3 separate regions of the Homo sapiens genome follow, and all the other regions are linked to region 1. Evidence: fine-mapped expression QTL. A gene starts in region 1. Each other region holds a variant in brackets. All regions are shown on one strand. Distances are between the middles of the regions.

Region 1 (8,189 bases):
AATAAATCAGCTAATTAATCATTGTTTTGTTAAGACAAATATGAAATTGAGTAGAGGGCAATTTTACATTGATCTAGTTTATAATCAATAGGAAATTTATAACAGTATTCAACTTTTATGCCCTGAATATTCTCAAAATGTCTTAATTTCAAAATGTCAAATGATGGAAATACAGTCTTAGGTGTGCTCAAGTAACATTAAGAAATTGTATGGCTAAAAATATGGAAGCAACCTAGGTGGCCACTGATGGATGAATGAAGAAAATATGGTACACATGTAATAATATTCAGCCTTAAAAACATGAAGGAAATCTATCATTTGCAACAACATGGATACACTTTGAGGATATTATGCTAAGTGAAATAAGTTGGTCACAGAAAGGCAAATACTGCATGGTTTCACTAATGTGAGGTACCTAGAGGAATCAGACTCATAAAAGCAGAAAGTAAGATAGTGGTTATCAGCAGTAGGAGAGTTACGAAGTTGGGGAGATGTTGGTCAAAGGACACAAAGTTTTATTTAGACAGGAAGAAAAAGTTCAAAAGTTCTATTGTGCAATATGGCAAGTAGAGTTAATAACAATGTATTGTTTACTTCCAATTGCTGGGAGTAGATTTTAAGTGTACACACACACACAGATACATATGTGAGGGAATGCAAATATTAATCAGCTTCATTTAGCCATTCCACAATGCATACATATGTGAAAACATCATGTTGTATACACTAATTATATACATTTTTATTTGTCAGTTTAAAAGAATAATAATGAAAGAAATTACACAGCTAAATCAAAGGATGCACGTGTCAGAGTAACTGGAAAGACAGCACATGAATGCCACACAAGAGTCCTGTTACGTACAACCCCACTCACAATCACCTCTTTTTTCATTCTGTACACACCAGGCTCACTGCCCAGCTAATAGCCCCATTAAGCAAACCCAGGTTCTCCTATATTTCAACCTCTGTTTAGATACATTGCCTCACACTATTAATAAGTATCATCAGCCTTCCTAGCTTTGCCAATGCCTCAATTCCCTTTCCGCCTTTGTGCACATCACTCCAACAATCACTGGTCGACTTTATTGAACCTGCCTCATGGGCAGGATCCATATGGGGCAAATTTGTGAAGAGCTGCATTCCTCTGCTAAGCAGTTTGTAAGGCATTCTAGCTTAAATAGGGAAGCAGATAATTGTTTTCACCAACATACATTCCCTCGAAACCATCCCACTAAAATTAAAGCAAGGTCATTGGCAGGCTGGGGGCCAGAATAATGAGAGATTATTGACAAAGAAACTAGTTACAAAATGCTGAGAAAATCCAGGCAATACATAGAGAACTTGGAATAGCACAATCAGTAGGAATAAATTGGAGAAGTCGGGTTGGAAACACGTTTGTGATTTAACAGGATGAGGTGGCTAACAAATAAGGTATGGAGTTAAGGATGACTTCAAAGTGAATAGTTTGCAAGATTCAGGGGATCATGATGCCATTCACACATAGACAGAATCATTTTAGAAAGAAAGGACATCTTTGAGGGGAAGGTAATGGCTTTCGTTCTGGACATCCTAATTTTGATGAACCCATGGGGCATCCAAGATGAGAAATCTAGTAGGCAGTTAAGAGGAATTTGGTCTAAATAATGTAGCTAATCTGGTAACAGGCTGTTTTGACTGAGTACCAGCTATAAGCAAGAAGTAATCATTGGAACAGTAAGAAATTACTAGATTTTACGGTGCATTAGATCAAGAAGAGGGATAAATCGCTCTTTGGCACAGCTGTACATCTTAGTGCCTATTTTGGGTCCTCAATAGAAATAGATTAGGACAGATTGCACCTATGGACATGGTGCAATATTTAAAGGTAAGCCATGCTGTAAAGAAATTAATATAATGTTCAGTATCTTTAAAAATATTAGTCATAAGTTACATAAACCAAAATAGCAATGCTAACATTGTAAAAGTAAATTTAGTTAAATTATTAATGACTCAAACTTACATCTCCCCACTTCTTAAATCCCACAAGATTCCTGTTGTATGTAAGCAACACTTTCCTCAAACCAAGAGCCTTTTAGGAGCCTTCTATCATATCCATCTGGCACCAGGGTAGCAACATTATGGATCATTGAGACAGGTTGGCTAGAAAGGTAGATCACTTTTGTCAAGGAAGAAAATTTAAAGAGTCAAAGGATCATAACTCTTCTCCTCTACAGTAAAAATGGCATTGTTGATGATTTAAGAACTTTGGATGGTGCTATTCAGCCCAGATAATTATAAAGAATACCCCATTGTGGAATATTATTCCATAGGTCTGTAAATTTTCTGTCACTTTTCCTATTTCAGCTCATCTTACGCATCAAACAACTCACCCTGTCTATAAAATGGAAGATATGCCGTATAACAGTTATATCAAAAAAGATCTTTTATGTGTAATCACTTCATAAAGTGCTGTTTGAACATAAGGTATTAGTAGTTATTTTAGCCTATCACATGAATAGTGCATCCAGACTCCAAGATTTAGAGATTTAGAGTCAAGCTCCTTTTTCTTTTTTTTTTTTTTTTTTTTTTTTTTTGCCAAGCTCTTGGAAACAGTACACTGGATTCTAAAATAGAAAAACAACAGTACAGAATTATGATCATTGCTCTAGACTTACTGGATTTAATTATTGGTTCAAATAACAATGATAATAATAAAACCAACTTTAAATTCAGCACTTTTTTCTATGCATTGTCAACCCCTTTTGAATTTCATCTTTGACCCTGAAGTACAGATTTGATTCTTTCTTCAGAATGTTTACATTTATTTCACCTTCCAAATTACCTCCTTTTTCCTTGGTCTCTGAGTTTCAGAGGTACCTGATGCATAATTTATGCCCTAGAGACAAAAATATTGGCTGCCAAGATGCATAAAACTAGTGGCCCAGTTGTGAGGATGAATTAAGAATGGACATCATTTTATTTCATTTTAATTTAGTTTTGTTTAATTCTAGTTTCAGTTTTGATGATATTTTGCCATGCTTCCCAATTTTTTTCTTTGATAACAACATAATTCAGGGAGAAAGTACAAATTTGCCACAGGTTGAACACTTAATTTGTGTTCCTTAAAAAATAATGCTGTGCTTAGTTTATTGCCAGGAAACTTCTTGCTTGATGCTTTGGTCTGTTTTGTTTTTAATGTTTTAAACAAAGAATATTCCGGCCTTTACTTCAGAGTTTCTTCCAAAGATACATATGCATTTCTAGGAAGAGGAAAGAAAGAGTTGTAAGACATCTATCATCATAAAAAATTAATCACTTGACTCATCCCCTGTCCTGCTTGTTTCAGTTAGCATTTTCAGCTTCCCAAGACCATATTGTTCTACATCTGTATGTAAGAGCTCTGATGTATCTAGAATTTGTAAGCTGTCCAGCAAAAATGAAAAAGGGTCTCTCCATTCACTTTTCAATGATTAAAAAAAAGAGAGAAAAGCATCAATTTTATATAACTCTCTCTTTTACTCAAATCTTATTCTCTGCCTTGTGTTAAATTCCAGCAAGGCCCTAAACAATTGAAAAATGAACAAGTTGGTTGATCTTTAGCAAGTGAATACATTGTTCCCTAAATGGTTTCAATTACACAGGTTAGCTCTGTGGGAGGTTGCACTCACTGTGATGTTCTAAGGAGACTACATGGTTTCTGAGAAGATAAAATATTCTGTAGCACTGAAACAGGTCGAATATAATCCTAGGTAATATTCTGGTGCTGTGTTGTGGATTTGCAATAGGTCAATTCAGACAAACTGGAACTACATTTCCCAGAATTCCTTTATCCGCAGAGTTCTGGGTTGGGGGTGGAGCATAAGTGAATTTGCACAAGATTTGAAAGGTAAAAGTGAAGTAGCAGCCATACTCTTTGCATTCTATAAAGGTCCACAGGGGCGTCAGGCTGTGCTTCAGACAGCATACATGGTTGTCCCAGTGCCAGTTCAACTGGTTGGCTGGGGTAGCAGCCTAGTGCAGCTCCTCAGCTCCTTCCCACTCCCCTCCTTCAGCTTATCACACCCATGGCAGCAGCAGATTTAGCTCCATGAGGAAAAGCTCCAGCTTCTCCAGCAAATCGATTCCATAATCAAAGATGGAGGCTAACAGGTGGTAAGAGGGGCTAATGGGTCCCAGTTGGTCCTTGTGGGAACCAGCTCAGCCTCAAGAGTTCCAGATTGTTCGAACCCCTCTCTATTTCACGCCCTCTTTTCTCCCAACTTCCTGCCCCGTGGACTTAAAGCTTCAGCACCAGATAGTGAAGGAACAGCCCCACACTGACTGCTTCATGTGTCTCAGTCCACCTTCACGTGTCTCAGTCCGCTTAGGCTGCTATAAAAAATAACAAAGACTGGGTGGCTTAAACAACACTTACTGGATCACAGTTCTGGAGGTTGAAATGTCCACGATCAGAGTTCCTGCATGGTCTGGTTCTCGTGACGACTCTTCCTGGCTTGCAGATTGGGGCCTTGCTGTATCCTCACGTGGCATAAAGAGAGCTCTTGTCTCTTCATTCCCTTGTAAAGGCTCCAATTCCATCATGAGTTCCACCCCCATGACCTCATCCAAGCCCAGTTACCTCCCAAAGGCCCCACCTCCAAATACCATCACACTGGAGATTAGGGTTTCAACATATTGATTTTGTGGACTGCAAACATTCAGTGTATAGCAACCAGCTCCCACTTGTAGTGGACCTGCTTTTCTGACCCAAGCTCTAAATGCTGCACACTGAAATTGCCTTCTTCATGACTGTTCTTATGTGCTGTTTACTTCACTCTTTCCCATACCTCTATCTCTCAGAATCTGATCTAAACTTACATGAAAAACTCAAAGCCTATCTTTTGCATGAAGTCTTCCCTGATATTTATGGTAAAAATTAACCACTTTCTCCTGCATGTCCCTAAGCACTTTAGTTATATCTCTCTTTGTGCACTTAATGCATCCTGCCTTGTATGGCAGTTCTGTGTATCTCTCTCTCCCCTTGTAAATTTCTTGAGGGCAGAATGATGTCTCACTCATCTTTGTATCCCCAAAAGCAACTATCACAGTGCCCCATGCAGAACTGGAGTTCAATAAATGTCTGTTGACTTGAAGTCTGGTGCAGCTTGCTTTATCCTCTGGCACTGCTTGGGTTGTCACCATGACTGTATCTAAAGGACAACTTTACCCTTCTGGGCTCTCTGGTCTTGTTTTATCTATTTTTATGATGTGTTTATACATAGTCCCTGCTTTATGCCAGAAGCCAAGCACTTTGGTGATACATTTTCAGTCAGGTTAAATGTTTGGCATTTTTTTTCAAGTGGAAAGGCCCTCACCGGATGTATTAAGAGTTTTCTTTTGAAATCTTATCATGAAAATAAATGGGGCAAATAACTGCATACAATAAGGCACTGCATAGTTAATGTAGCAAAGTATCCTGCACACAGCAAGCTCATAGGAAACATAGGTTGAATGATGGAGGAAATAAATTGATGAATTTACTAATGAATGAAGAGCCTAACCAAGGGACAAAGCCATCAGGTATATGTATAGTACTGCCATTTTTAATGACATGATTTGAGACTCTTCCAAAGAAACATAGATAACTACCTACCTTGATGTAGTCCTACCAACAGGCAGAGGATTTCTCTCCTCCAAATTGCAGTAGTTCATCATTCTTGCTTAAAGTTTGCTATAAGCTATAGTTTATAATGAACTATAATTTATGGTGTATACAAGATAGGTCTTACCTACATTTCAAAAAATAGGGAACCACAGAACAATTCATGGAGCATAGTGTCGAAGGAAAGGAACTATTGTCAGAATACATCTAGATCTATTTTTTTTGTCTAACATCTATGAAAGAAAGGATGAATGGTAATGCATTAAATATTTTTCTAATATTGCTAAATGAGAATTTTATAAAATTCTTTCAACTCCCATCTTGTATATGAGATTCTAGAAGTTGCTATAAATTGTGCTAGAAAATGGGTACAGCTTTGTCTTGGAAGTTTTATGTTTCAAAACATTTTCCCCTCAAAGAAAGCTTTATTTCCAAGTCCTGAGGTGCCAGGTAAAAATCTATAAAGTAAAAGTAATTATCTAATATCTCACTTAGTAAATCATCAGGATAAAACTTCTTTAGGAAAAAGCTAGCTCCTTTTGTTTGTGAGGAAAAAAGAAATAAAAGAGACTCTGGGAAATTTTTCAAGTGATTTTAAAAAGCAAAACTTTTACTCTAATCATTTTCTTGTAAATAAATCTAAGAAAATAATAGTTTAGCTTAAAGTAAAAGTGTCCTGGTTCAATTTGTGTCCACTTCTATGCACAACCTATCATGTTACCTTTCACAGTGTCTTTGGTTGCACTTTACGTATCTTAAGCTTATCCTGCTCAGTATAGTTATCTTCACAAAATTGCTTTGGTAACTCAGGAACTGCAACATTTCTGTTGCCTCATTATCTAACAATGTATCCAACCAATCAAAACTCAAGAGGGTCAGAGAAGATCCTGCAAGTCATTCATCCAACAAATCTTCATTGAGCAGTAATGAAACATAGGCTCTGGTTTTCAATTTAGGACTGAGGACAGATGCACCCACATGAGTACAACACTTGTCACAGGTGCAACTATGGAACATCTCCACAGACACCAAGAGGTCAAGAAAGACAATACAGAAAGGGTGGCTTCTTTTTTTTTGAGACGGAGTCTCGCTCTGTCACCCTGGCTGGAGTGCAGTGGCATGATCTCGGCTCAGTGCAACCTTGGCCTCCCGGGTTCAAGCAATTCTTCTGCCTCAGCCTCCTGAGTAGCTGGGACTACAGACGTGCACCACCACACCCGGCTAATTTTTGTATTTTTAGTAGAGATGGGGTTTCTCTATATTGGCCAGGCTGGTCTTGAACTCCTGACCTCGTGATCAGCCCACCTCAGCCTCCCAAAGTGGTGGGATTACAGGCGTGAGCCACTGCACCAGGCCAAGGGTGATTTCTAAATTACATCTTGAAATATTATCAGTGTTCATCAGGCAGAAAAATGGTCTAGATAAGACAAAGGCATCTCATGCAAAGAAAGCAGAAGGAGCAAAGCATGAGATACGGAAGGCTTTGGTGCAATCAGAAAAACATCTGGTGTGGCCGATGCTTGTCAGGGAGAAGGAAGAAAGTAAGGGATGCATTATGGGTTGAACTGTGCCTCCCCAAAATTTACATGTTGAAGTCCTAACCCCATACCTCAAAATGTTACTGTATTTTGAAATTAGAGTCTTTAAAGAGGTAATTAAGGTAAAATGAGACTGTTAGATTGAGCAGTAATTCAACGGTACTGCTACCTTAGGAGAAGAAGAATTGGGACACAGAGAGATACCAGGGATGTGTGTGCACAGAGGAAAGGCCCAGGGAGGACAAAGAGAGAATGTGGTATTTACAAAACAAGGAGACAGGCTTCAGGAGAAACCAGCCCTACTGGCACCATGGTCTTGCACTTCCAGCCTCCAGAACTATGAGGAAATAAATTTCTATTGTTTAAGCCACCCAGTCAGTAATGTTTTATTATGGAAGCTCTAGCAAAGTAGTACAAGACAAAAGAGATGAGGGAGGCAGGGGTCTTCATGGGAGAACGTGTACGCCCTGAGAAGCTCACACATCCTGCAGGCTATGCAAATCCTTAAACAGTTAGACATAGGAAATTAGCAATACGTTAATAATATGTTATACTTCATAAAAGTATCACTCTGACAACTGTGTACAAGGTAGAAGACACCAGCTGACTACAGGAAGAAAAACTAACTGTTGAATCAAGTGGCAATGAGAGGCTAACAGAGGCAGGCATGGAGGGGAGAAGAGTTCTGATGTGTGAGATGTTTCAGAGGCACACTCAGCCAAAGCTGGACCCAGAGGTGATGTCATGTTGTACAAATGAGAACGACAACCTAGATCTGCTTCAATGCTGGGACCTACGATACAGGAACTCAATAAGCATTTATTTATCAAATGAATGAAGACAAGGCAACTACCCACTTTCATTAGATGGACATCTGAGAATAAACCATACTACTCCAAACATAATAACATCCATTCTACTACCTCATGTCAATTATGCTCTGCCATATACTAAATGTGCAGAGAGTTGAGTATTGACTATAAAACTATAGATAAAATATCCATCCATTCTCGTATGATTTATACACTGTT
Region 2 (8,189 bases), 200 kb after region 1:
ATCTAATAGACATTAAATTACTTGAGGACAATAATTGCATGCTCATTTCTTTCAATGATTCTTCATTACATTATAGTTTCTGGATTCTAGAATAACATAGTCATTCTGTTCTTAATAGAAATTTGGGTTTGGAAGCCTAAAGTTTAAACTTATACCATGCCTACAAACACTTGGCCTTTGCTTCCCTTCCCCACAATCAATTTGAAAGGAAAAGTTGATTATACTGAATATGTCATGACTAAATGCATGATGATTAAATAGACCAAAAAATATACAGATATAAATGTATGTGAATAAAATATAAATGTAAGAATAACAGCTACAAATACAAATATATATGAATAGACCACCAAAAAGTTGTATATTTTATACAGCCTAAGCCCCTGTTTTGGCTGAATCTAGTTTTTTCAACTATAAAATCTAAGAAATCTCTATTATACATCATTAGATTTAAAAAGGCAGATGCAGAAAATCATGTATTATGTTACTATTTTAAGTTTTTTAAAAGAAAATATATGTTTCTGTGTGGATGCAATTACTATGGATATAATATTGCTGGAAATATATTAAGATACTGGTAACAAAATTAGTTGCCTGAGAAGAGGGGAAGTTGGTGAATGAATAAGGCCAAGGGTGTGTAATCAACTTTACAGAAGCTTTTGCAACTTTTGAATTCTTAATTGTGTGGATATATTTCATAATCACAAGTAACATTAAAACTTAAATAAGACAATAAATAAAAATATACAGTAATTAAACAAAGAATCACACAAATGCCAGAATAAAACATGTCTGGTGCATTTTCTCTCACCAGTAGTATGATGCATGGCCTATTAATTAAGCACATGGGAAAATGAAATAATCCAAGTATTGAATTCAGTCCCCAAATTGCTGTCTTCCAAGGTTCACATCCAGACCAAGATTCATCCTTATATATACACAGACATGGAGGATGTAAAGTAATCCTCGTGTTCAAGTTTCAAAATTACAGTTCTATATTAAATATAATTATTTTTTAATGTTCATGCCTTTAAATATTTCATCACATATTGGATTGTGCATGTACATCTTGGTTGGAAGTTTCAAACAATTTAAAATGATGATATCATTGCTCATTTTAGCAATGTCAGTAACTAACATGATCAATGGTTTGATAAGATTGATAATCAGAAATATATTTTTAAAGGTATAAGAAAATTACCTTCAAATTGTAGCGTTTGTTTCATAAAGCCATGAACAAATACACTTTCTTCCATTGTTGAGATTCAGAATGTGACTGAATCATTTTTCAGTAAGTCAAAAACTAAGGGAATAACACACAGATGTGCATTGCAAGCACAGTCATGTTAGGAATTTGTAACCTAGCATAATCCAATGACAGGTTTAGAAGTAATTCTTTCAACTAAATATATGACAGACCAATTGTATCAAATAACTGCCCCTACTAAATATCAAGTTATAAGCAGAAATCATCAAGTCGTTAAAGATACTCTATTCTAGCTCTCATATACAAATCTGTTCATTTAGCATATATTCACTGACTGCCCTCTATATGGCAAGACAGTGAAAACAAACAGAAAACATGGTCACTGCCTTCAAAGAGTTCCTATCCCAGTAAAGGAGGGAGAGAGAAAAATGTACCAACACTGCAAAACACCAAAATTACTTCTCTAATAGAAGCAAACAGACGTGAGTACAAAAATTTTGTCGTGGCCCAAGAAAGGGAACTGTTAATCTACTTGGCAAAGGGGAATGGGGAGGGATCTTTAGGAAGATGCTACCTCTCACAGTAATAAAGCTTGACAGTGGCAGAGCCTTCATTCCAATTTAGATCTCTGGATTTCCAGGTAGTATTCATTTTGCTACACTGTTCCCTAACAAACTGATCAAAGATCACTGATACTATTAGCTACAGCACACACGCATGTGAGTGAGACTTAATTTAAGCAGTGTTTTAAGTAGTGTCTTGCTAACAATTACCCACTACACAGAATGAAGACCTTTTCAACAACTCAAACTTTATACCTAAAGCACTTAACACTCATACACATCCATACTGTGATATGCATATGTGTGTGTACATATAGTTTCACACAGAACTTAACAGAGATCAATAGCTAGTGATAAGTATTATTTCAAAGCTAGAGTCCAATTCTGTTTATTTACAATCACTTTGCTGCTGAAAGCTTATTAACTAACCAGCTGTTAGACTGCGCTGCCCCAAAGCCATTATCCCAGCAGGATACTATACTTGGATTGGAACCAAAGATGAATCGTTTCATTATCATCTTCTTTCTTATTAACAAAAAACATTTCAGAGGGATTACCTGGCTTAATTGGCTAATTCAATACATAACTAACTTGGTTACTTAGATTATCCAACTATACTACCCTCATTAACTGTATGCAAATAAAGCAATTAAAACCTCTGATGCTATGCGTGACAGGTAAGAAGTAAGTACTAGAGCACACCAAATGTCAATTCCCATCAGGTGGCAAAAGACTAAGTTTGGCACTACAGTGGATAACTCTTACTCTTCCACACAACTGAAAATACTGTAGTAATTTAAAGCTTCAAATCGGCTTTAAAGAAAGAATGGCACAGTATTCAGGGTCAGAGATAATAGCAATAATAATAGTTAAAGATCAGTGGACAGTGCTACCCAATCTAAAATAAGAAGATGCAGCTTGTGCCCAAGTCTTGGTATTCTCAAAGCTCCATCAAGCTCCTTTAACAGGGTGTGGTGGCTCCCACCTGTAATCCCAGCACTTTGGGAGGCTGAGGAGGGTGGATCATTTGAGGTCAAGAGTTTGAGAGCAGCCTGGCCAACATGGTGAAACCTCATCTCTACTAAAAATACAAAAATTAGCCAGGCATGGTGGCACATGCCTGTAGTCTCAGCCACTCAGGAGGCTGAGGCAGGAGAATCCCTTAAGCCCAGGAGGTGGAGGTTGCAGTGAGTCGACATCGTGCCACTGCATGCCAGCCTGGGCGACAGAGTGAGATCAGTCTCAAAAAAAAGAAAAAAAAAAAAGAATGGCCTTTAAGATAACATGAAAATTTTTGTTAAAGTGAAGCATCTATCCTCCCAGAATCAGGTATTCTTCACAGAGGTTATATTCAGCAGCATGCTCTTAGAAATAGAGCTTGTGTCTAACGTTTAAGTGGTGCCAGCCAGGCTCATTCCCCAGTCCCTTAGCTATTTATGCTGCCACACGTGTATCTAAAACTTCTCCTATTATGTCACAAGCCTGGAAAATACACTGTTATTATTCCATTATTTTTATCAACTTAAGACCACACAAGTTTTTTTAAAGGGTAAAAAATAACACCATCTTCTTTCTACATCATGACACGCTAAGATGGAAGAAACAAAAATGCTATTATTTTTCCTCAAGCTATGCTGCTCCTGACCGCCTTTTATTCCTCCCTGATGAATCCAATAGGCTATTGTTATAAGAAGACATCTAAAGTAATATTTCTTTTCCATATGAGTTATATAATCCTAAATGTCCAAACGAATGAAAGCTGGCCATTCTATTTCTAAAAGAAGTTAGATTACTGTTAAGACCTAAATCACATCAAAATAATCACACAGAGTACAAATAGAAAAACAGTATACGTGTGTGTGTGTGTGTGT[A/GTGTA]TGTGCATACACACACACATATATATATATATACATACACACAAAAGAGCTTATTTTATGAAAGACTATTGTGATGAAAGCAAACTAAAGGCAACTGAACCATGGTCACAAATTATTTTGTTGTGATGAAAATTGATTCAAAGAACTTCAGAGGTGGGGAAAGGAGTTGGTAAAAGGATTATTGAGAAAAGAGACAAGACTGTTTAAACTCAATAGTCATATTAGCAATTTAAGAACTTGATTATACCTTTGAAATGAACAATAACTCAGTAACAACTCCAAAAGAAAGACAGTATATTTTTATGATACGGGATAATCATATTGGCAATTCAAAGATGTAATAAACATGACTCAAAGAAGAAACAATTCATAATAAACATAAGCTGAGTACAAATTTCTTATAAGACAAAAGTTTTTTTAAAAAACTAATTCAAAAAGCCATGAAAAACCTTCATCACATCAAACCTCATTCTCAGAAAATACAAAGAAAATTCTTGTATTTTCCTCTTTCTCTGTACAGAAATAACAAGAATCTTAGCACGCATAATAATACAATAAAGTAAACTAGGATTGCTAAGTCATTAGTAACATAAGTGACTCATGAAAAAGTGAACTAATATTCATCTAGAGTTACGCATTTATCATTATGGTTTTTTGGATTGCTTTTCTGGTCATTGATTATTGTCTTTCTGTTTAAGAACTTTAGCCTTAAAGCTTAAAGAAGTAATTATGTCTTTAAATATTACATTCAAATATCTTAAAAGATTAAAAGAAATAGCTGCAACATATACCTCTTTGGACTTCATTTAATTGTATTTATTCAACTATAGAAACTTTTCTTCTGGCGTACAGAGGACACAGAAATAATTATTTCCACCTATCTTTCTGTCATGAATTAGTCCAGTATTAGCTATAAACAGAAATTGAACAAATTCTTTACAAGTTCTTTGACTCTTTGTTTCTTTAAAATGCAAAAATACAATATATTTTGAAAGCAGTTTTTATATCGATTATATAAATATTATTTCATATATTTATTTATATGTTATGTATATTTAATGTAGGTATATGTTATGCTATTAATTTCTTTGCAAAAACAATAGAATGCATTTCACATGTTGATTTTAGATTTTTGCATACTTTCTAGTATTAAATGTAGCAAACTGCCTTTAACTGCAATTACAACTCACCAAAAATTAGTATGATTTCCACATATCAGACTAATATTATAATAAAATATTTTAATTTATTGATTACTAAGTCAATTTTTAAAAGATCTAAAATAAAAAATTTAACATATGTTATAGCCAAATGAAAGCTTTGAAAACAACTATAAATTTTACTTTATTCAATTATATAAATGAATTGAAACTTGCATTTCCATAATAGCATTTGAGATGAAATTTGTTGATAAAGATTTATTTTCTTTTAATACTTCTTCCTTTCAAATAGGTACAAGACTGATTTGTCTAACCCTGGGTTCTGCTAAGTAGCAATTGTTTTATTCCAAAGATGCAGAGTGGCTATCTAACCTCTGCTGCAATATTGTCTCCTAGGACACCAACATGAAGCTTCTAGAATTTATGATACATTGTCCTGGATCAACCACTATAACAAAAATTGAAAGTTATTTATATATCTGGAAGACCATATCTATTGAATTCCTCTGGAAATATCAATCACTTTTAGACAGGAATTTACATTTCACTTGTTTTAAAATAATGTACTTCCAGTTGGTAAATGGTCACAATCTGTGTCCAGAATATAGATGAACAACAACAAAACTCCAAAAGAGTAATTTTCATCTTTAGTGTGTCCCGAGAAGCAGATTTCTCATTGGAAACAATGCAAGCAAGGAGAGTGCAGCAACATCACAAAAGTATTGAAAGAAAAACATCCATCATCCTAGAAGTTAAAATCCAGTGAAAACAACTTTCAAAAACAAAGATGAACTAAAGACCTCAAAATATATGTGAAAATTAACTCAAAATGGATCACAGACCTAGATGTAGAACCTAAAACTGAAAACCTCTAAAGTAAAATAGGAAATATCTTTGTGACACTGAGGCAAAGATACATTATTAGGTTTCTGCAAAAGTAATTGCAGTTTTTCCCATGGAAACTAATGGCCAAAACCACAATTACTTTTGCCCCAACCTAATAGCTATGACACAAAAAGCACAATCCATCAAAAATAAATTAATTAATATTATACACAACAAAATTAAGAACTTCTCTTCAAAAGAAATCATGAAAAGAATGATAAAACAAGCATCAGCATGGGGTAAAATATTTGCAAGCTGCATTTCTCATAAAATGGCTTGGATCTAGAATATATAAAGAATTCTCAAAATGTGATAATAAGAAAAGCTTACTATGGGAGGTTACAAATATGTTAATTTGCATGACTGTAGTAATCATTTCACTATGTAAATGTATATGAAAACATTAGGTTTTACATCCTAACTATAGAAAATTTTTAAAAAGAAATAAAACAGTTGAAAAAATTTTAAAGGTTAAAAAAAATTTTTTTTAATGGGCAAAAAATGTGAATAAATGCCTCACCAAAGAAGATCTACAGAACTCAATAAAGCATATGAAAAGACGCTCAATAAGTCAATAAGCATATGAGAAGTATTTAATATTATTAGACATTATAGAATTGCAAATTAAAACCACAGTGTGATACTACTAAGCCTTTTAAAATGGCTAAAATGAAAAAGACTGGACCAGTCTTCTGGCTAGGATGGGAAGTGAACAGAATTCTCATCTACTGCTGTTGGGAATGTAAAATGGTATAAGCATTTTGGAAAACAGTTTAGCAGTTTCTTTTTCTTTTCTTTTTTTTTTTTTGAGACGAAGTCTCGCTCTTGTCCGGCAGGTTGGAGTGCAATGGCATGATCTCGGCTCACTGCAACCTCTGCTACCTGGGTTCAAGCGATTCTCCTGCCTCAGCCTCCCTAGTAGCTGGGATTACAGGCACCTGCCACCATGCCCGGCTAATTTTGGTATTTTTAGTACAGACGGGTTTTCACCACGTTGGCCAGGCTGGTCTCGAACTCCTGACCTCAGGTGATCCACCCACCTCGGCCTCCCAAAGTGGTGGGATTACAGGCGTGAGTCACCGTGCCTGGCCAGCAGTTTCTTAAAAAGTTAAATACACAGCTATGTGACAAAACTAGTCCACTTCTAGGTATTAATATTTACCCAAGAGAAATGGCAACATAGGTCCACACAAACACTTGTAACATGAATGCTCAACAGCATCCTGACAAGTAACAGCCAAAACCTGGAAATGGCCTAAATTTTCATTAACAGTGAAATGATAAATAATATTTCATGAAATGGAATTTTACTTCAGCAATAACAATAAATGCTTTATTGATGAATGCAAAAACGTGAATGACTCTTGAAATAATCTGAGTTTAAAATGTGATATCATATGGCAAAAGGGATTTTTCCAACATCATTAAGGTTACTAATCAGTTGATCTGACTTAATCAAAAGAGAGATTATCCTTTTAGACATAACTTAATCTCATGAGCCCTTTAGATTTGGGTCTAGCAGTCAGAGACAGAGAAAATCAGGGTTTTGAAACACAAGAAGGTTTTGACACACCTGACTTTGTACATGGAGTGAACCAGTTGGCTAAGAATCACAGGCAGCCTCCAGAAGCGGAGAGAGGCCCGTCAGCTGACAGCCAGCAAGGAAACAGGGACTTCAGTCCAATAAGTGCAAAGAATTGGATTTGGCTAACAACCTGAATGAGCTTGAAGAAAGACTTTCAGCTCTAGATAAGACGACAGTCCTAATCAACACCTTGATTCTGGTTTTATGGGACCCAGAGCAGAGAATCCAGTCAACCCATACCCAGACTTCTCATCTACAAAACTATGAGCTCATAAATAGGTGTTGTTTTAAGCTGCTAAGTTTGCAGTAACTTGTTTTGCACTAAAGGAAACTAATACACATGGTAAAACTATGGTAAAAGAAATATTGTAAAAATATCAATACCTACCCAGCAGCAATCTATAGAATGGAAGAAAGTGAAAAGTAGTGGATGCTGTAGGAGTCTCACTTGTCTTGGCACTCACCATGCCAGTACATGACCATAGTAGTGAGAAAAAGAAAAGCAGCTCCTGATAGCTGGGAGATTGACTGGTACTATCCAATAAGACACAGTGTCCTTCTGTTGATCATAACCAGTTTCACAGAACACCAATAGTGGACAAGTCTATTCCATGACAATGACGGATCAAAATGAACACAAGACCACTTGGTGATCATGTCTGAACTCAGACAAAAACAAGAACATTGTCTAAACTCCCAAAATGAACAAACGTCTCTCTATCTGGGCTAATATAAGTGAGAATTACTTCTTTACCAATTATAGCTGTAGCTTGCTCTTGTTCTTCTCTCCTTCAAGCTAAGAATTCTGGGCCGGGAGCAGTGGCTCAAGCCTGTAATCCCAGCACTTTGGGAGGATGAGGTGGGCAGATCATGATGTCAGGAGTTCGAGACCAGCCTGACCAACATGGTGCAACCCCC
Region 3 (8,189 bases), 220 kb after region 1:
ACCATCTTTAAACATCTTTCACTTACTCATCACTACAATTTACCACATAGGTACTACTGTCATTCCCATTTCACAGATGGGGAGATTGAGACTTAGAGAATTTAAGCAATTTGCACAAAGACACTCAAAGAGCAAGGGGTGGTGCAAGGATTTAAATTTAATCTGACACTAGAACCTGAGACTTAACTATGCAAGATGATTCTTCACAGACACATGACTAAGTAACACCAATTGACACGAACTGACATTGTTGATCACTCCTTCCTCCTTTAAACATTGTCTTCACCTGGCTTTTAGAAGACTGTACATTCCTGGACCCATCCTATGTCAACAGCTGCTTCTTCTAAGTCTCCACTGCTGGTTTCTCTTTCTCGCTCCCCCAAGTCACATGACTTGATTATCTAGGACATCCTAAAATACATAAAAACACCTCCCAAAAATTGCTCCTAGGAAATGGAAGGCATTTATCCATAGGTGCCCATTCCCCATTGGTGGATCATTGCCTGGGGGTGTTAATGCCACCAAACTTCCCAAGGGCCAGGTGTGTGTGTGTGTGTGTGTGTGTGTGTGTGTGTGTGTGTGTGTCAGGAGTGACGGCATCTCAACCCTATCTGAGCACTGTTCCTGAAAAGGATACTTGCTGATGTTCACAAAACAATGTCAGTGTTCTATCAGGCCAATTTCCTCCAGTTGATACAATATATGGTAGGACCAGTGGAATTCCATGGTCGTGTGTCATTGTCACACCTCTTTTACCATAAAGTGTGTCCTTTAGTTGGAGGCAATACATCAGAAAATCATGTGTTTGGGCTGGGTGTGGTGGCTCACGCTTGTAATTGCACCACTTTAGGAGGCTGAGGTGGGCAGATCACTTGAGGTCAGGAGTTCACAACCAGCCTGGCCAACATGGTGAAACCGTGTCTCTACCAAAAATACAAAAAAATTAGCCAGGTGTAGTGGCAGGCACCTGTAATCCCAGCTACTGGGGAGGCTGAGGCAGGAGAATGGCTTGAACCTGGGAGGCAGAGGTTGTGCCACTGCATTCCAGCCTGGGCAACAGAGTGAGACTCTGTGTCAAAGAAGGAAGAAAGGAAGGAAGGAAGGGAGGGAGGGAGGGAGGGAAAGAGAGAAAGAAAGAGGAAGGAAGGAAGGGAGGGAGGGAGGGAGGAGATGGAGGGAAGGAAGGGAAAGAAAGAAAAAAGAAAGGAAGGAAGAAAAAAGAAAAGAAAGAAGGAAAAGAGAGAGAGAAAGGAAAGAGAGAAAGAAAGAAAGAAAAAGGAAGGAAGAGAAAGAAAGAAAAAGAAAAAGGAAGGAAGGAAGAGAAAGAGAAAGAAAGAAAAAGAAAAAGGAAGGAAGGAAGAAAGAAAAAGAAAGAAAAAAAGAAGGAAAGAAAGAAAGAAAGAAAGAAAGAAAGAAAGAAAGAAAGAAAGAAAGAAAAAAGAAAGAAAGAAAGGAAGGAAGGAAGGAAGGAAGGAAGTCAATCAATCATGTGTTTGTAACTCTGTTATATAATGGTACTGGCAGAGGCACCATGAACAAGACCAGTCATATCAAGGGAAGTGTCAGTTCCGTAAGTACAAACCACGGCTCTCTCCAGGAAGGAAGGACTTTTGTGTAATTGCTCTCCTTATGGAATTTACCATCAATCTTTGCTGCTGATGGGCTGGACATCCAAAGAGGCAGTAGTCATATCGGCTTTAGTAAGAAAGAGCCTTAATTGTTGGGCCATGCACATGTCCTCCCCTTAATATCACTAAGAAAGTCCTTGTTGTCATCTGACTGCAAAGTAACCCACTTCCAGAGTTCTGAGGAGCTGCATTCTAGACTTTCTTCTTACATCAAATTTCTTAGCTTGGTTTCCCTCAAAACCTGAGACAACTACTTATGTGGGGACAGGTAATTTGGGATGTGATCCTAGTGAGAAACAATGAGAGAATGGAAGGGAGAATATAGACATAATACAAGAATGTGTTATTGAAGTTGCTGTTGTGAGAAACCAGAACCCAATTTCACTGGGACTTTTTGAAAAACACACAGAATGGCCTACAAAACTATCTTGCTCAAGTGTAAGAAGCAAGAGCATTTATCCATCAGTGACTGTCACCCCTTGGTTGAAGGGCCCCAGATGTGTTGACTTACCAGCACTTCAAAGCTGTGCAGGACAGGAGCTGAGAGAGCTACTGCTGGAATGTGTGAAGTCCGAAGAACCTCAGGGAAGAAAGCAAAGAGGCCTGGTAAATGTGGGAGAGGAGAAGCTGTCAGGGAGAAGAATGTGTAAGATTGCATGAAACTGCCCCCCACAACCAAGTCAGAAATGAGAGGTGATGCTCAGAAGATGTGAATCAAGACACCAAAGGTTTCTGATACTACAGAATTATTAATTTCTTAAAAATTTAAAACCAATTCATAGGACCAGGCGCAGTGGCTCACGCTTATAATCCTAGCACTTTGGGAGGCTGAGGTGGGTGGATCACTTGGGGTCAGGAGTTCGAGACCAGCCTGGTCAATAAGGTGAAACCCCATCTCTACTAAAAATACAAAAATTAGCCGGGCATGGTGACAGGCGCCTATAATCCCAGCTACTCGGGAGGCTGAGACAGGAGAATGGCTTGAACCCAGGAGGCAGAGGTTGCAGTGAGCTGAGATGTGCCACTGCACTCCAGCCTGAGCGACAGAGTGAGCCTCTGCCTCAATCAGTCAATCAGTCAATAAAAAACAATTCATAGCTGCAAGTCTTTAATTTTGTTTACCACGTGGTTATCACAGGAGTAAATGGGAAGTATTGTAAGAGAGTCGATATTTATTAAACACCTACTCTATAATAAGTACTACTCCAGATAGTCTCTCCTACATTTCACATTTGACATGTAAAAATATTTCACTGACATGGTAGTCAGAGAAGAGCCAGGTGACATTTGAGCAGTGACTGGAAAAAAATGAGGAAGCAAGCTCTGTGGACATCTGAGAGGGCAGTGTTCCATGCAGAAGGAACAACAGCTACAAAGCACTGATGCTTGCTGTGCTTGGGGGCAATTAGAAAAGCTCTGAAGTGTAGCTTGGATGTGATCCATCAAGAATAAGTTCAGTCTTAAAAGTCAGGGTAAGAATTTTGAACTTTAATCTGAGTAAAATGGTAAACCGCTAAAAGGTTCTGCACAGAGGAGTGGCATATTCAGGTTCTAATGGGATCACTCCAGCTGCTGAATGCAACTATGTAGAGAAATAAAGGGAATGCAGAAAGCTATGCTCACGGCTACTGCAATTGTCCAGGCATGAGCAGATGGTACCTTGTAACACCTCTTGTACCTTAAGTTGTTTTATACTGCCATTTACTTTCTCATGGAAACCCCTAATTTCTTCAGGACAGGGAGCTCATACGCATAGTTTACGATATGAGCTATACATATGCCCATTTAATAAATACTTGATAAATAACCACCATATAAATGGCTAACAGTAGTACTAAATTCACATTATACAGTGACGATATGGCATCACTGAAAGGTTTTGTCATTTACTATCTCTTTAGGAAATTTAAGTTCTCTAAGCCTTAATTCCAACATTCCTAAGTGTTGCTAACACCAGCCTAACAACGTTGGCAAGTATTAAACGAAAATGTCTACCCAGACCTTTTTTTCTCACCACCAAAGTAGGTGCCTTGCTTTCTTACAAACCCTCGATCCCAATACAAGACACAAATGCTACCCTTTCTGAAGAGTGCCTGTAAAATTTTAAAAGTTGTCCATAACTGACTGGATTCTAACATACATATTAATCCAATTCATCCCTTTCTGGTATTCAAGGCATGCTTTCAAAAATTGTCCATCTTCGTTACAGTAATATTTTCCTTAATTATTCTCTGAAAACAGCTCATCCCCAAACCGTCTTGGTTTTTACGTTATTACATCTCAGTGGTGATGGATGAGGCCCTAAACGCGGGGAAAACCTTTTACAAAAGTTTTGATGGCTGGTCCTCAAGCTTTGAGATTTACCTTCCAAGAATTAAGCAGCACTATCGAAACAATGCTGGCAACATTTTTATGAGGTTGCAAGGACCACGGTTGCTGCAGCTACAGGATGAGTTATAACGTCAGAAGCAACCCAAGCGTTACTTCAGGCCCATCTTCACCGGAGAAGCCCGTATGAATCAGGCAAAAACATAAAAACAGGTTCTGTGACTTTGCCGTATCTCATTTAGATCAAGTAGCACGCAGAAGGAAGACAAGGATTTTAAAATCTGGCTCCAACATTCTCCACTTGGTCGCGTTCTCAAATCTCAGCCCAGGGCCGCTGACGTAAAGTCGCCTCTCTCGTGGGCACCACGGGCTCGAGGGTAGCCGGCAGCTGAAACCCGAGGGGCTTCAGAGGCTTGGAGGCCAGGAGCAGGCAGAGCGCCGATGGGATAATGAGATTCTCCAGCAGATCGGCGCTCACCGACCTACTCCATTTCAGTGGGTAGAGGTAAAGGCTGAAAGGCGACCCTCGCACCGCCCGGCCCACCTAGGCAGTGCCGGCCTAGC[G/A]TCTCTACCCCATAGAGCATGCGCGGGAGGTAACGGCCCGCCCGCCACCGGCCACACAGGCCTGTCGGGAGGCGGGGCCACGCGTCTGCGCACGCGCGCAGGGACACATAGGCGGAAGTGGCCTGCGGGCGCCGGAGTTGAGAGTGCTTTCCGGGGAGGCGACCGCCGCGGTGGAAAGTGCAGGAGTGGGCGAGGAGGAGGAGGAAGAGGAGGTGATGGCGACGGACCAGGGGAGGGGGAGATGCTCCGTCTAGCTCAGACGCCACGCAGGCTGCCGTCACCCTTCCGGGTGACATACCGGCCTTGGGGTACGCGTGCCTTCGGGGCCTTTCCTGTGTTTGGGACCCAGATCTCCTCTCCTCCAGAAAACCTTGACACTGCCCATCTTCCTCATCCAGAAGGAGCGTTCGAGGAATGGATGAGGTCGGGATGGAAGAAACGGGTGATTCCCTTTTTTGAAAGAGCGGAAACCGGCCGGGCGGTTTCCAGGGAGGAGCATCTGTTCCTCCTCGCCCGTTTTTCGCCCTCGGGCTGGCGAGAACTCCCTCAGGTCCCAATCCGTGGACTCGCAGGGGTGAGGTGACCTCAAGGGGTCTTTTACGCTGTTCTCGGGGTCTCTGGAGAACTGTCAGTCACCTGGATACCTCTAGACTGTATTTACAGTTAACTGTTTCCTCGTTCCGTGTTTATTAAATAGGGGCACTCCAAGGTACTCTTTTCTCCATTTGGCTTGCAGTAGAATGTGATTGTTCTGGCTGGGCTATTAAGTTTATGGCATAAACTTCCACTAGAAGTTCTGCAAGTTTCCTCCAGTCTTTGCAACTGAATTATCTCTCCCGTCTTTTTATTATTTAAGGAATATTGAAAGTAAAAGATGGAATGATTTGGTGCGCTAACAAAATCTTAAGTGTTGAGTATCTGCATTTTTTCTACATTAGGATATCAGAAGCCTAGAATTGTTTTTTGATTAAACGTTTTTCTAAGTGAATTGAGATAGTTTGGAACTTGGAAGAGAGGCAGCATTTCAAAATAATTTAGACAGCGTTATTTTTACTTAATTACTTAATATATAAAGTCCTAGTGTTAACTTTTTCTCTTGGAAAAAAAAAAGAATAGTCTTCAAACATTAGCACAGGGTTTCTCCACCTTTGTGTAATGATGTGTGTACAAAGAAATGAGATGGAACTTTGTTTTTTCTGTTTTATAATCGTACACCATAGGCCATGATTGATTCCGGAGCGCAGTTAATCAAGGCATAATGGCATGGTAAGATTCTTTTATTTGTAACGTTGAGTGTGGCAAAGTATAGTTAAAATCACGTTTTTTCAGGTTAATGACACCGTAATGACTTTTTTTTCATATTCTACCTTTTTTTGGTGTGGGACTTTTGTCCTTCAGGTCGGAAAACTCAAAAATAAACTGAAATAATTGTGACTTCAATAGGTCATTGTAACTCAACATTATCACTAATTTTAATTTTTAAATATACATTGTATGCCGGAAATGCTACCTTTTTATTCCATTTTAGCAGTTGAAGTTGAATATCTGTGTTGAATTTAGGAAGAGGCCTCAGGCAATTATACACACCTGTGATTTTTAAAATATATATATATATATTTTAGTTTCACTGATTACTGTGAGCTTCAAAAGCAAAGCACAATGTTGATCATTTAGTCTGAAAACTAATTTTAATTCCATGCTTCATTTTTGCTCCTTGCATCACAAGGAGTTTGGCCCATTTTTTTTTTTAGATGATGGTTAGTATCAGTCATTAATGTTTGAAGTGGAAGGGATATGGCAGACATTCCCCAATGATCACAGTTATTAGGTATCAGAGGTCTTTATCAGTCACACTTTCTCACCAGTGATGTTCTTATTAATAAAACAGCATTCTAAATGCAAGGCTTTGGTGGGCAAGTTTTATGAGACTGATGCCTCAGGCAGAGGAAACAAATTTATTTTCATGTTCATTTCAAATGTTTTGTGGGGAGTTTCAGTAGCAATGTCGGTATTTTGGCATACATGTAGAAAAGACAGTGCTAGAGAGATTTCATTCTGCACATATGGCCTAGATCTGCAGCACATAAAGTTGCCAAGAAGTGTATTAGAAGTGGTAAAGTGTTGGAAAGGAGCTGAATAACGTTGATTAAATAAATGGTGCTTGCTAAACTGTGGTAGAGTCCTTCATTTAATCTTACATTTTTGTTATGTGCCAGAACATCATAGGAAGATATCTCTTGCCTTAAGGATTTCATAGGCTTTTAGGAGAAACAAGTATAAAAACGAAAAAGCTATACCATTATCATTTAGGAATTTGAAAAATATGTATAATATGATTGAGTCCAGGACATCAACTCGTTTTTAACTTCGAGGCCTTATTCATGGATGCAGCATGATCAGACTTCACGTTGAGCCATGTGACAGATGGGTCAGAAAGGGAAGAATTGATTATAAACAGTCTCGTAATCTAGGCAAGAGAAAATGGCTGCCTGATGGAGTAGGGTCCGAAACAGATATTAGATATAGTTATAGAGGTAGAGTTAACAGGAATCTTGGCAAAATATAGAATGTGAGGAAAAGGAAAGATTCTTAAGATGACTCCCAGATTTTTAGCTTGTGTTTCATACTAGGTACTGTTAAGTGAGATTGGGAATATAGGAACAAACAGTAGATTTGTTTTGAGGGGAAAATAATCAGCTTTGGCCATTTTAAATATGAAGTGCCAGCAGAGCTTATGAGTAGAGGTATCAAAGAAGCATTTAGACGTAGAGCTCTGGATCTCAGGAGAGAAGGCAGCGTTGGAAATTCAGGTCTGTATTTCCAGCTGCACATCAAAGGGGTGAGTCAGCTTGAGCACACCATATCACCCTAGCAATATTTCTAAAAAGTTGAAGGATGACAGCTAACACACTTATGGACTGTCATATGCCAGGCAATTTTACATTTATTTCATATAGTCCTAACCAAAATCCTGTGATAGGCACATTTTTAACTCCTCCCACTTTTGAAGGTGCAGAACCTAAAGCTCAGAAAAGTTAAACGATTTGCCCAAGGCTCCTCAGCTAATAAGTAGTAAAGCCAGATCTTGAACTCATATCTGTCAAAATTCCAAAGCATGGGGAAAGCATTATGCTATACTGCTTTCTTATACTATTACCTATAATTGTATTGAGTCATTACAATATGCTTGGCAGTTTACTAAATTACAAACATCTCAGAAGAAGGTGACTTTGGGAAAGCGTGACCTTCTGGAGAAATGTTTTGATGCCAATAAAAGCAGGAAAGAAAGATATTTTCTAGAAGTTTTATTTATTCTGTATGTATGTGTAAATATGTAAGCATTATTTGTAAATTTTCCCCACTCTTTTTCTATAAGATTTTCAGTTTTGCTCATAAAGTTTGCCAGTACCACCATCCATTTCAAAAATCGTATCCAAGCAGAAGGTGAGTGATTGCAAGCTGAAGTTTGAGGGTATCAAGAGGAAGGATCAGTTTATTTGGTTCATCTGAATATCAGGTCAGAGTATATGCCAGGTACCAAGGACACAGAGACAAATAAGATTTGAATCTTGCCTTTCAAGTTCTCTTTTCTAATAACTGGGGGGATTAGTGATGGTGTCACAAAGGAGGGGATATTAAAGCTGAACTTCCAAACCTGACCTTGAGAAA

Direction of the effects. Positions count from the first base shown, and alleles are read on the strand shown. Sizes are in standard deviations (SD) of each study's normalised expression. Not every link is listed here.
As copies of GTGTA replace A in region 2, the expression in prefrontal cortex of the gene that starts at base 4,515 in region 1 goes down (moderate effect, 0.74 SD a copy in CommonMind).

What was found.
Region 2: its variant is fine-mapped to the expression of HULC in prefrontal cortex (CommonMind, PIP 0.95).
Region 3: its variant is fine-mapped to the expression of HULC in fetal neocortex (Walker 2019, PIP 0.95).

The regions. Positions count from the first base shown.
Region 1 is chr6:8,648,595-8,656,783 of GRCh38, reverse strand. It overlaps HULC (hepatocellular carcinoma up-regulated long non-coding RNA), which reads right to left and starts at 4,515. Exons shown (of 2, transcript NR_004855.3): 1 at 4,394-4,515; 2 at 2,928-3,239. All of the region lies in intron 3 of LOC100506207 (a long non-coding RNA gene), which reads right to left.
Region 2 is chr6:8,447,418-8,455,606 of GRCh38, reverse strand. All of the region lies in intron 2 of LOC100506207 (a long non-coding RNA gene), which reads right to left. Among named protein-coding and RNA genes, the nearest start is that of SLC35B3, 16 kb to the right of the region's middle. The variant A/GTGTA (reference allele first, on the strand shown) is at 3,642.
Region 3 is chr6:8,431,982-8,440,170 of GRCh38, reverse strand. It overlaps SLC35B3 (solute carrier family 35 member B3), which reads left to right and starts at 4,626. Exons shown (of 10, transcript NM_001370479.2): 1 at 4,626-4,828. LOC100506207 (a long non-coding RNA gene) reads right to left here and starts at 4,548. Exons shown (of 5, transcript NR_038980.1): 1 at 3,993-4,548; 2 at 2,140-2,231. RefSeq lists enhancers at 4,229-4,318, 4,399-4,478, 4,419-4,588, 4,789-4,848, 4,345-4,886 and 2 more. The variant G/A (reference allele first, on the strand shown) is at 4,521.